2 separate regions of the Homo sapiens genome follow, and region 2 is linked to region 1. The links come from fine-mapping of genetic effects on gene expression. A gene starts in region 1. The other region holds a variant in brackets. All regions are shown on one strand. Distances are between the middles of the regions.

Region 1 (5,523 bases):
CAAATAAAAATCTCAAAATAATATATTTCCCTTAAACATAGGCTATGAATTAATAAAATAAATTCAATCACCTTTTGGTAAAGGAAGCATGAAAAGATTGACTACTCATTTCTTTATGGATGAAAAATTAGCATGGATGAGTGCCCCAAATGAAAAAGAACCCTTCCTTTTCTTCTTATTTTGTCATTTCCTTCCCACTGACTTGGTCAGAAGCCACCTCCTTTTGTTCTTCAACCACTCTGAATAGCTGGTAGTTTCCATGGTCTCTGAAGGGATTCACGCACACCACAGTTCTCGGCGGCAATAGGGACCACCAGAGGTCCTCACCCTCGTTATGCAACCTCAGGCCTTCCCCCTCCTCTGTTTTCTCCCAACTGCACTAAGGGCCAGTCTTCTACAACCCTAGGGGCATCACAGACATCTTCAGAGCCCCAAGACCCCACCTATCATTCCTATGCTTAGAAGGAACCTCTTCTTTTCCAAACCTTCCCATCCAAACCTGATGGGGCTCTTCCTTCCCAAACCTCGCCCATCCATCAAGATCTAGCTTCTGTTTCATTTCCTCCAGAGGAAGCTTCCTTTTCCCCTAAACTTCATAATGTTTAGTGTCTATACCATTAAAATAGGCTACCTCACATTATTCATGCCTCCATTTGCTGCTGCTGCTTTTTTTTTTTTTTTTTTTTGAAACAAGCTCTTTCTCTGTCACCAAGGCTGGAGTGCAATGGCATGAACACGGCTCACTGCAGCCCTGACCTCCCGGGCTCAAGCAATCCTCCTGCCTCAGCCTCCTGTGTATTTGGGATCACAGACATGCATTACCATGCCCAGCTAATTTTTTGATTTTTTTGTAGAGACAGGGTCTCACTTTGTTGCCCAGGCTGGTCTTGAACTCCTAGTCTCAAGCTCGGCCTCCCAAAGTGCTGATGTTAGCCACTGTGCCTGGCCCATTTGCTCCATTTTTTAAAGTTTTATTTTATTTTTAATTGATAAATAATAATTCTATATACTTATGAGGTACAATGTGACATTTTGATACATGTATACATTGTGGAGTGATCAAATCAGGTGAATTAGCATATTCATTACTTCAAATATTTATCATTTCTTTGTAGTAAGAACTTTTTAAATCCTCTCTGTTAGCTATTTTGAAGTACACAGTACCTCATTATCAACTGTAGTCACCACACTGTGCAACAGAACAACAGAACATATTTCTCTTGCCTGATTGAAAGCTTTTATCCATCGACCACTCTCTTCCCCTCTCACACACCCCTCACCCCCAGCCTCTGGTAACCACCATTCTACTCTCTACTTCTACGAGTTCAATTTTTTTAGTTTCCACATATAAGTGAGAGCATAGGGCATCTGTCTCATTATGCCTGGCTTATTTCACTTAACATAATGTTCTCTAGGTTTATCTATGTTGTCGTAAATGACAGAATTTTCTGTGTTTTTTTTTTCAAGGCTGAATATATTATATTGTGCATATATACCACATCTTTTAAATCCTTTCGTCAGTTGATGGATACTTAGATTGTTTCCATATCTTGGCTATTATTAATAATCCTGCAATGAACATGGGAGAGGAGACATCTATTCAACACACTGATTTCAATTCCTTTGAGATTCTTGGAACATATGGTAATTCTATTTTTAGTTTTTTGAGGAACCTCCATACTGTTTTCCAAGATGTCCGTACTAATTTACAATACAGCCAAGCATACAAGGGGCCCCTTTTCTCCACAGCCTTGCCAACACTTGTTATCTTTCTTTCTTTCTTTTTTCTTGAGACAGGGTCTTGCTCTGTTGCTCAGGCTGGAGTGCAGTGGTGTGATTTCAGCTGACTGCAGCCTCAACGCCTCAGCCTCCCCAGCTCAAGTGGTTCTCCCACCCCAGCCACCTGAGTAGCAGCTGGGACTACATGCACGCACCCCATGCCTGGCTAATTTTTGTTGTTTTGTTGTTGTTTTGTAGAGGCGGTGTTTCACCATGTTGCCCGGGCTGGTCTTGAACTCCTGAGCTCAAGTGATCCTCCTGCCCTGGCCTCCCAAAGTGCTGGAATTACAGGTGTGGGCAACCACACCCAGCCAAGATCTCTTTATAGGGACACTCAAGACTGATTATTTTGACAAGGCTGATGTTTTGCTGAATGTGAAGGTGGGCTTCAGGCCAGTGAGTAGCCCTGGGTGGGGAGCCAGGAGTTAGGAGAGGAAAGTCTCTGCTCTAGCCTCAAGGAGGAGAAACTGCAGGGTGACCACCACAACCTGTGGGATCAGCCCCATTCTGGGGCATCATGCATGCCTATAGGGGAGCTGGAGCAGGTGATCAGAAGCTGGAGCAGGGCATAGGCAGGGATGTGCTTGGGGGCCCATGACACAGTTTTAATTCAGAGACCTGCAGTTATAAAGAAAGCAGATTAATCCTGATATCATGGATAGTTCCACTTTGTGCTCAAGTTTACGATTCTAGGCCCAGGACTAAGCAGAGCCATGGGAAAAGGTTCCCAGCTCAGCTGGGTCCAGATATCCACTCCCCTTTAGTCCCACATCATACTGTCCTTGTCCTTTGTTCTCCGATCCAGCCTCCCAACCAGGTCTTAGCCTTTTTCCCATACTGAGCCCCACACCCTTAAGGAACCCCCTCTCTTGGTGTATCTCACCTGTAAGCCATGGAAAGGCAAGCTTCAGAACAAGGAATATAGACAACCTAGGACTCTGTGGTCCTCTCCCCTGCCCCCTCAGTGCCCTGAAGTATGTGAGACTGGGGTTCCTCCTGCCACTGTCCTTTCCCCACGGCTGAGAGGGTGAAGTGAGGGAAGGGAGCTGCCCATCTCTGCTCCACCAGGGGACAGCTGAAGGTGAGACAGGACAGGAGCCTCAGACCCATTGACTGAACCTGGGAGGTGGGCAGAGCCTGGGAGGGGGACAGCGCTCTTCAGCTTTCCTCCCAGCCTTGGTCCCCACCCCAATCCATGTCGGCCCTTTTAGGAGCTTTTAGTGGAAATGAGCTCAGACCCGCAGCACAGGCCCCCGGCTCCCCTCCTGTCTCAGCTCCTCCCATTGCTCTTTGATCGTCTCTTCTGTCCGACCTCTGGGCCATCTCTCCACCAGGCACATCTGCGAGCAGCCCCCTTCATCCCCAGCATCGCCTTTTCCTCCCGTTTCTCCTTCCACTCCCAGCTCCACATCCTCCTCCTATTCTCCCCTCTCCCCTCTTCAAACCCCCACCTTCCAGTTCCCTCACCTCCCCTTTCGGCTGGTCCCCTGGGGCTTGCAGCAAGAGGGAGAGAGAGCTCCTGACAGGATTGATGGTCCTTCCCCACCCTGTCCTCTCATCCGCTCCCTCCCCAGCAGGCACAGACATCCCCCTACAAAAGGCAGGAGCCCAGGCTGTGTGGAAACAGCTGCTCTCAGACGCCTTTCCATTTGCTCTCTGCTGGCTAGGCTGGGCTGTGCCTCTGCTCCCTCTTCCTCTAGCTGAGAGTGGGCACCTGGGGTACCGGGCCCCCCCACCTCATTCCCCATGAATGCTGTGGGAAGTCCTGAGGGGCAGGAGCTGCAAAAGCTGGGGAGTGGAGCCTGGGACAACCCCGCCTACAGTGGTCCCCCTTCCCCACACGGGACGCTGAGAGTCTGCACCATCTCCAGCACGGGGCCTCTCCAGCCCCAACCCAAGAAGCCTGAAGATGAACCCCAGGAGACGGCATACAGGACCCAGGTGTCCAGCTGCTGCCTCCATATCTGTCAAGGCATCAGAGGTACCAGATAGGGGGACAGTTCTCCTGGGATATTAGAATCAGGAGGAGTCACCAAAAGCTTTTGGGCAGGGGGTGGGGGTGGAATGTGATCTGAAGAAGAGGTGACCTTTCGGTGTCACTTTGGGGTGTATGAATTGCCCATGGTAGTGCTGCATGACCCAGAACACAGAGGCCAGCTGAGCGGTCTACCGGTTGTGGGAGCCTGGCATGGTCATCACCTGGGGATCCAGAGAGGTATGTGGGAGCTGGTTTGAGGGAGGACATGGATGTGATGATGCCCTAGACTACCCCACCTGGAACAGGTGCCTCCTTTCCATGCCTTCATTCTCTACAAGCCAGGGCCTTCACCCCTGTCGACCTCAGGGAGCTGATGGGAAGAGCAAGCATGGGTGTGGGTACAGTAGCCAGATTCAGCCAAGGATGAAGGTGATGGGCAAGGAAGGGCAGGGGTGGAAAGGGGCTAAAGTCCAGAGACAGATGGGTGGGGATGACTGGGAGGAACACTGCCACTGAGCATCCCAGGCATCTCTCCCATGCCCCTTAGGACTTTGGGGAACAACCCTGACTGAGAACACAGCTGAGAACCGGGAACTTTATATCAAGACCACCCTGAGGGAGCTGTTGGTATATATTGTGTTCCTGGTGGACATCTGTCTACGTGAGTAGCATCTGTGTTTGTGTACATCTGTCTGTGAGAAACATCTATGTGTGCACTATATGTATAAACATTCCTGTGGGCAACATCTGTGGAGCGAGCATCTATCTGTGTAAGCAGGCTATATCCGGGAACTTTAGATAACAATATTCCAATCCCATCTATTTACCTTTGCAGCTTAAGATATTTTGTTTAAAAGGAATTTGTCAGTAGAGGAAGGCAGTTTGGTCAAGAATTACAAGGGGAAACCAGTTTTTGGCAGCCATTGTTTTCTATTGGCTGAAAAGGTGAAAGGTGAAAATATTTTACCCTTCTGTAGAGAGTGGGCTGGCACGGTGGCTCACGCCTGTAATCCCAGCACTTTGGGAGGCCGAAGTGGGCACATCACCTGAGGTCAGGAGTTTTGAGACCAGCTTGGCCAACATGGCGAAACCCTGTCTCTACTAAAAATACAAAAATTAGCTGGGTGGCAGGTGCCTGTAATCCCAGCTACTCAGGAGGCTGAGGCAGGAGAATCGCTTAAACCCAGGAGCAGAGGTTGCAGTGAGCCAAGATCGTGCCACTACACTCCAGCCTGGGGGACAGAGCAAGACTCTGTCTCTCTGTCTCCAAAAAAAAAAAAGAGTGGAAAACCACTCCCTTCTGTTTGGAAAGATAGTTTGGTGGGCTTCACGTAGTTATTATACTATATCCGATGCATGTTTCTTTAGAGGCAGAGAAAAAGATGGAAGAAAAAAGAGAGGAAGTAAAAGATCCAGGCGACCTTAGATCTCAGATCCCTGTTAAGAGAGGGAGGGAAACACATGGTATGGTGATGGTCCCATGTGAGAGACCACCATGTCACATGCCATTGGAGGAAGCTTATTGAGGCTCTAGCTATAGACACAAACTGAGAAATTTTGATCTCTAAGTTGAGAGAAGCAAGTGAAAAGATAGGAGGGCGACTGTGGGAAGATAGAGTCAAAGAACCGTAAATAATAATAAAATTGGACCAAACAGATGCTATTAGACTTGTAGGTAATGACAGCAACTTTGTATTTGGTTTATTACTTCTTTCAAAAGTTGCACAAGTGATGTTTGCCTAGTTTAATATAGTTGTGTGTGGGGT
Region 2 (5,000 bases), 39 kb after region 1:
AGTAGCTGCACCTGGAAGCGTCTACGACCGTCCTCCAAGACTCCCCTTCCTCTGGGGATCTCATGCTGATTTCTACTGCCACTACTTGGTAGTTCTCTCTCCCTGCCAACCATGAAAAATCTGGGTTATTATTTATTTATTTTAGACAGGGTCTCACTCTGTCACCCAGGCTGGAGTGCAGTGGTGCAATCTCAGCTCACTGCAACCTCCACCTCCCGAGCTCAAACTATCCTCCCACTTTAGCTTCCTGAGTAGATAGGACCACTGGTATGGTCAGGAGCCACCACACCCCGCTAATTTTTGTATCTTTTGTAGAGACAGTGTTTTGCTATGTTGCCCAGGCTGGTCTCTAACTCCTGGACTCAAGCAATCTGCCTGCCTTGGCCTCCCAAAGTGCTGGATTACAGGTGTAGGCCAGTGTGCCCAGCTCTTGGATTTTATTTTTACTAACAAGGCCAGCAATTTTCTTTATTTGATCAATGGATGGGGATACAGATATGGATTGGGGGGTAGATGAAAAAGAGATCACAATTGTACTCTCACCCTGAAAAGCCTCTAGTTCCAATGATTGATGGGCCCTTATACAAAGGAGGTCTGTGGCATATGTTATTGTATCTCTGTGGTCAGAAAGGTTACTACAGCAACTGAGAGTGAGGACACCAGGTTGGTCAAGAAGCATGATCCATCTCTAACAGAACTGTGCTGAAAGGCTGGGCTCTGGGGACCCTGAGAGGCAGGGATTGATGGGCTGCCGAACTGGGGTTGAGAGCACTGACCCCTTTGGAACACGTGTCTTGGACATTAATGGGGTCAGTGGGCTCAATCCTTTCAGTGGGTCTGGGGGTGAGGACCCAGGTCCCCACTTCATTTTCCAGAACATGTTCCTGGCCATCATCAATGACACATATTCAGAGGTCAAGGAGGAGCTGGCTGGACAGAAGGATGAGCTGCAACTTTCTGACCTCCTGAAACAGGTGATTGCTCAATCTCCTTGAGCTACACATTTCCATCAGTGCCCCAGTCTAAGGCTCTGTGTCCTGGTCTGTTCCTGACTGATTGAGGTGCCTGTGCCCTTGTGTGCCTTTAAATTTATCCTTGGAAGCCTGGCATACTATGGGTGGGGCTGGGGGCCAGGGATGAGTGAGCAGCCTGTGAGAACTTGTGCCTATTTCCTTTCCCTTTCAGGGCTACAACAAGACCCTACTAAGACTGCGTCTGAGGAAGGAGAGGGTTTCGGATGTGCAGAAGGTCCTGCAGGGTGGGGAGCAGGAGATCCAGTTTGAGGATTTCACCAACACCTTAAGGGAGTGAGCAACCAGAGACCCAGCCTTCTCTAATAACAGTCTCTTAAGTCCTCAACCCTCAACCATACTTCATTTGCTTATAAGCCTTTGGTTTTAGTTTAGGGGCCTCTGATCTTGACTTGCAGGCTTCAGATCTTTGCCCGTAGGTCTCCGCTCCTGACCTTCAGAACTGTGCCCTTGGTTTAAAAATCTCTGACCGTGGTTTATAACATCCTGGATCTTGTTGAACAACTCTTAGGAAACAATGTAATAATTCCCTAATCATTGAATACACACCCCACTCCCACAAAACTCTGATTTTTGTTCTATGCTTCCCCACAAACACTCATCTATTCCTTTAGCCATTCACTCCCTGATTCCCAGTCAAACATATTAATACACATTGAACAAATACATTGTGAGCACCAGCTGCAGATCAGGCACTGAGTAATAGACAACATAATTTTTTTTTTTTTTTTGAGACAAAGTCCTGCTCTGTTGCCCAGGCTGGAGTGCAGTTGCACAATCTCGGCTCACTGCAACCTCAGCTTCCCCGGGGTCAAGCAATTCTCATGCCTCAGCCTCCTGAGTAGCTGGGACTACAGTCATGTGCCACCACGCCCGGCTAATTTTTGTATTTTTGGTAGAGATGGGATTTTGCCATGTTGGCCAGGCTGGTCTCAAACTCCTGGCCTCAAGTGATCCACCCACCTCAGCCTCCCAAAGTGCTGGGATTAGGAGACAACGTAATTAAATGGGACAAAGTCTTTGTTTTCTAAGAGCTCATAGACTTGCAAATAAACTGAATCACAGAATAAGTTCAACAGAAGTGACTAGGAGTAGAGGGTGATCAATTCTATCTCTGAGCTTAAGGGAAGGCTTCCTGGAAGAGGTAATGTCTAAATAGGATATTGGAGGATGAATAGCTCACAAGTGGACAAGCAGAGGAAGGCTCTTCCAAGAAGAGATGAAAGCACATACAAAAGCATAGAGGTCTGAAACCAAGCAACATACACAGGAGGAATAAGTAGTTGAGCATTGCTAAGTATTAAATAAAGGGGCGGGGACAGGTGGTGGTCATAGCAGGAGATGAGACCAGAGAAACAGGCAAGGACCACACTGAGAAAGGCCACACTACCACTCTGCCAAAAGAATAGGGTGCCAGAAGGGATTTCAAGAAGGCACATTTTTAGATCTGCATATTAGAAAGGTTAATTACTCTAGTTGTATTATGGAGGATGGATTTCAGGGGTAGGGAGTAAAGGGGAAGCTGGGGGATAGCAGGTTATTTAGAGGCAAACAGATTTTGCAATAATCCCTGTAGGAGGTCATGAGGCCCTGAACCTGGTGAGCAGGAGTCAGGAGAGGAAGAAGAAACTGAACTGAACTGAGTGTTTTCCTGGGGGTAAGATTGCTAGACTTTGGAGAACCTTCTTTACCAGAAGCAAAACTTTTGCCAGAGTCAAGCAAAAGAGTGAGGAAGT[C/A]CATAACTGAGAGGTCACAGCCACAGCTGGGCAGAAATCATTTCATCATCCTCTTCTCAGACTGGGACACGCAGAGCATGAAATCACTGAGCTCACGGCCACCTTCACCAAGTTTGACAGAGATGGGAATCGTATTCTGGATGAGAAGGAACAGGAAAAAATGCGACAGGACCTGGAGGAAGAGAGGGTGAGCTGGGCTGATGGGTGGAGAGGCAGTGTAAGGAAATAGCTCACCCTCTCCTTCCCCCAACATACCTAGAACACAAACCCACCTGAAAACTCTCCCATAGATAGTAAAGAACTCTCTAGAATAGTAGTTCCCAAACTGCTGCACATTAGAATACCCTGGGGGGCCTTTAAAAATCTTCATACTCAGGACACACACTCTAGACCAATTAAACCAGAATCTCTGGGTGTGGGGCCTAGACATCAGTACTTTTTATAACTCCTTAGGTGATTCCAATACATAGCCAAGGTTGAGAATCATGCTCTAAAACACAGGCTTAGGGAAAAATGACCAACTGCCCAAGAATCACTGATAATTCCCTCAGAGGACTTGCCTTCTCTTGGGAATTTTCAGACTTGGATTCTTGGCTGTCCCTACTGTGCCTGCTCCATCCCTATCCAGTGTGGACCAAAAAAAGTCAAAGGCAGGGTGACAGCAGCCTAGAAAGTGCCAAGAACACTGGTAGTGTCCCTCCTCTGCTAAAATGAGTTGGCCTCTAGTAAATACCTCATCCATCAAGCCTTCTAGGATCTTGTGTTTTCTTTGAGAGGTGACTCCTCCAGAGGTTGGTCCAGCACCACCACCCTGACCCTATTGTCTCCAGAGTCTGGGAGGGAAGGGGAATAGCAAGAACTAGGACCTGAGCCTTGGTCCTGAGATCCCAGTAGAGTAGGTGATAGAACAGGAGCTGATGGCTTCCCAGAGTTATCTCCTCCCCTCTAACCTCTGACTTCCTGAGCAGGTGGCCCTCAACACTGAGATTGAGAAACTAGGCCGATCTATTGTGAGCAGCCCACAAGGCAAATCGGGTCCAGAGGCTGCCAGAGCAGGAGGCTGGGTTTCAGGAGAAGAATTCTACATGTACGTGCAGCCAAGAAAGGCTGGTTCAGGGCTGGCAACACTTCTATTACGATACCCTGTCTTGTACTTTTCCCACAACTTTCCAATTCTCTGTCCTACCCCAGGGAGAACCTCCGCTCCCCTTTAATTCTGCCTACAAGGCTGGGTCTTCCCTTCCTTGTTCCATTCAGGACACATGCCCTTCTGTGAACCCTGGCTCTTTAGACATCCAGCCCCCAGACACAGATTTCTGCTCCATTCGTCTCTCTCAAATCCCACACAGGCTCACAAGGAGAGTTCTGCAGCTGGAGACTGTCCTGGAAGGAGTAGTGTCCCAGATTGATGCTGTAGGCTCAAAGCTGAAAATGCTGGAGAGGAAGGGGTGGCTGGCTCCCTCCCCAGGCGTGGTGAGTGGCCCTTCACCTGGTCCTCCTAGTTCCTCACAGCTGAACTCTGCCATCTTTTCCACTCAGTGGGTGGGGCAAGAACATTTTTGAAAGACCTATGTTTTCAGGCTCCTGGGGAAACATGTTCATAGCGGTTAGTGTATCAGCAGAGATGGGTCATGGAGATAAGGCCTGGAAGTTGCTTGCCCTGGCCTAAGGGCTGCCTTGGCCACATGAGATGGTCTGTGTCAGTCTGTTTGGGCTGATATAATAAATTATCATAGACTGGGTGGCTTATAAGCAACACAAATTTGTTCCTCACAGTTTGGGAGGCTGGGAAGTCTAAGATCAAGGTGCCAGTAGATTCAGTATCTGTTGAGGGCCCACTTCCTGATTCATAGAGAGCTGTCTTCTTGCTGTGCCCTTTCATGGTGGAAGGGGTAAGGGAAGTCTCCTTTATTTTATTTTTTTATTTTATTTATTATTATTATTATTTGAGATGGAATTTTACTCTTGTTGGCCAGGCTGGAGTGCAATGGCACGATCTCGGCTCACTGCAACCTCCGCCTCCTGAGTTCAAGTGATTCTCCTGCCTCAGCCTCCCAAGTAGCTGGGATTACAGGCATGTGCCACCATACCCAGCTAATTTTGTATTTTTAGTACAGATGGGGTTTCTCCATATTGGTCAGGCTGGTCTCGAACTCCTGACCTCAGGTGATCCACCCACCTCGTCCTCCCAAAGTGCTGGAATTACAGGCGTGAGCCCACTCATAAGGGCTAC

The links. PIP is the estimated chance that this variant, and not a neighbour inherited with it, causes the effect.
Region 2: its variant is fine-mapped to the expression of PKD2L1 in whole blood (TOPMed, PIP above 0.99).

The regions. Positions count from the first base shown.
Region 1 is chr10:100,328,106-100,333,628 of GRCh38, reverse strand. It overlaps PKD2L1 (polycystin 2 like 1, transient receptor potential cation channel), which reads left to right and starts at 3,401. Exons shown (of 16, transcript NM_016112.3): 1 at 3,401-3,760; 2 at 4,305-4,418. The coding sequence starts at 3,526.
Region 2 is chr10:100,289,255-100,294,254 of GRCh38, reverse strand. PKD2L1 (polycystin 2 like 1, transient receptor potential cation channel) reads left to right here. Exons shown (of 16, transcript NM_016112.3): 10 at 876-974; 11 at 1,186-1,307; 12 at 2,828-2,954; 13 at 3,736-3,854; 14 at 4,117-4,240. Among named protein-coding and RNA genes, the nearest start is that of BLOC1S2, 5.1 kb to the right of the region's middle. The variant C/A (reference allele first, on the strand shown) is at 2,768.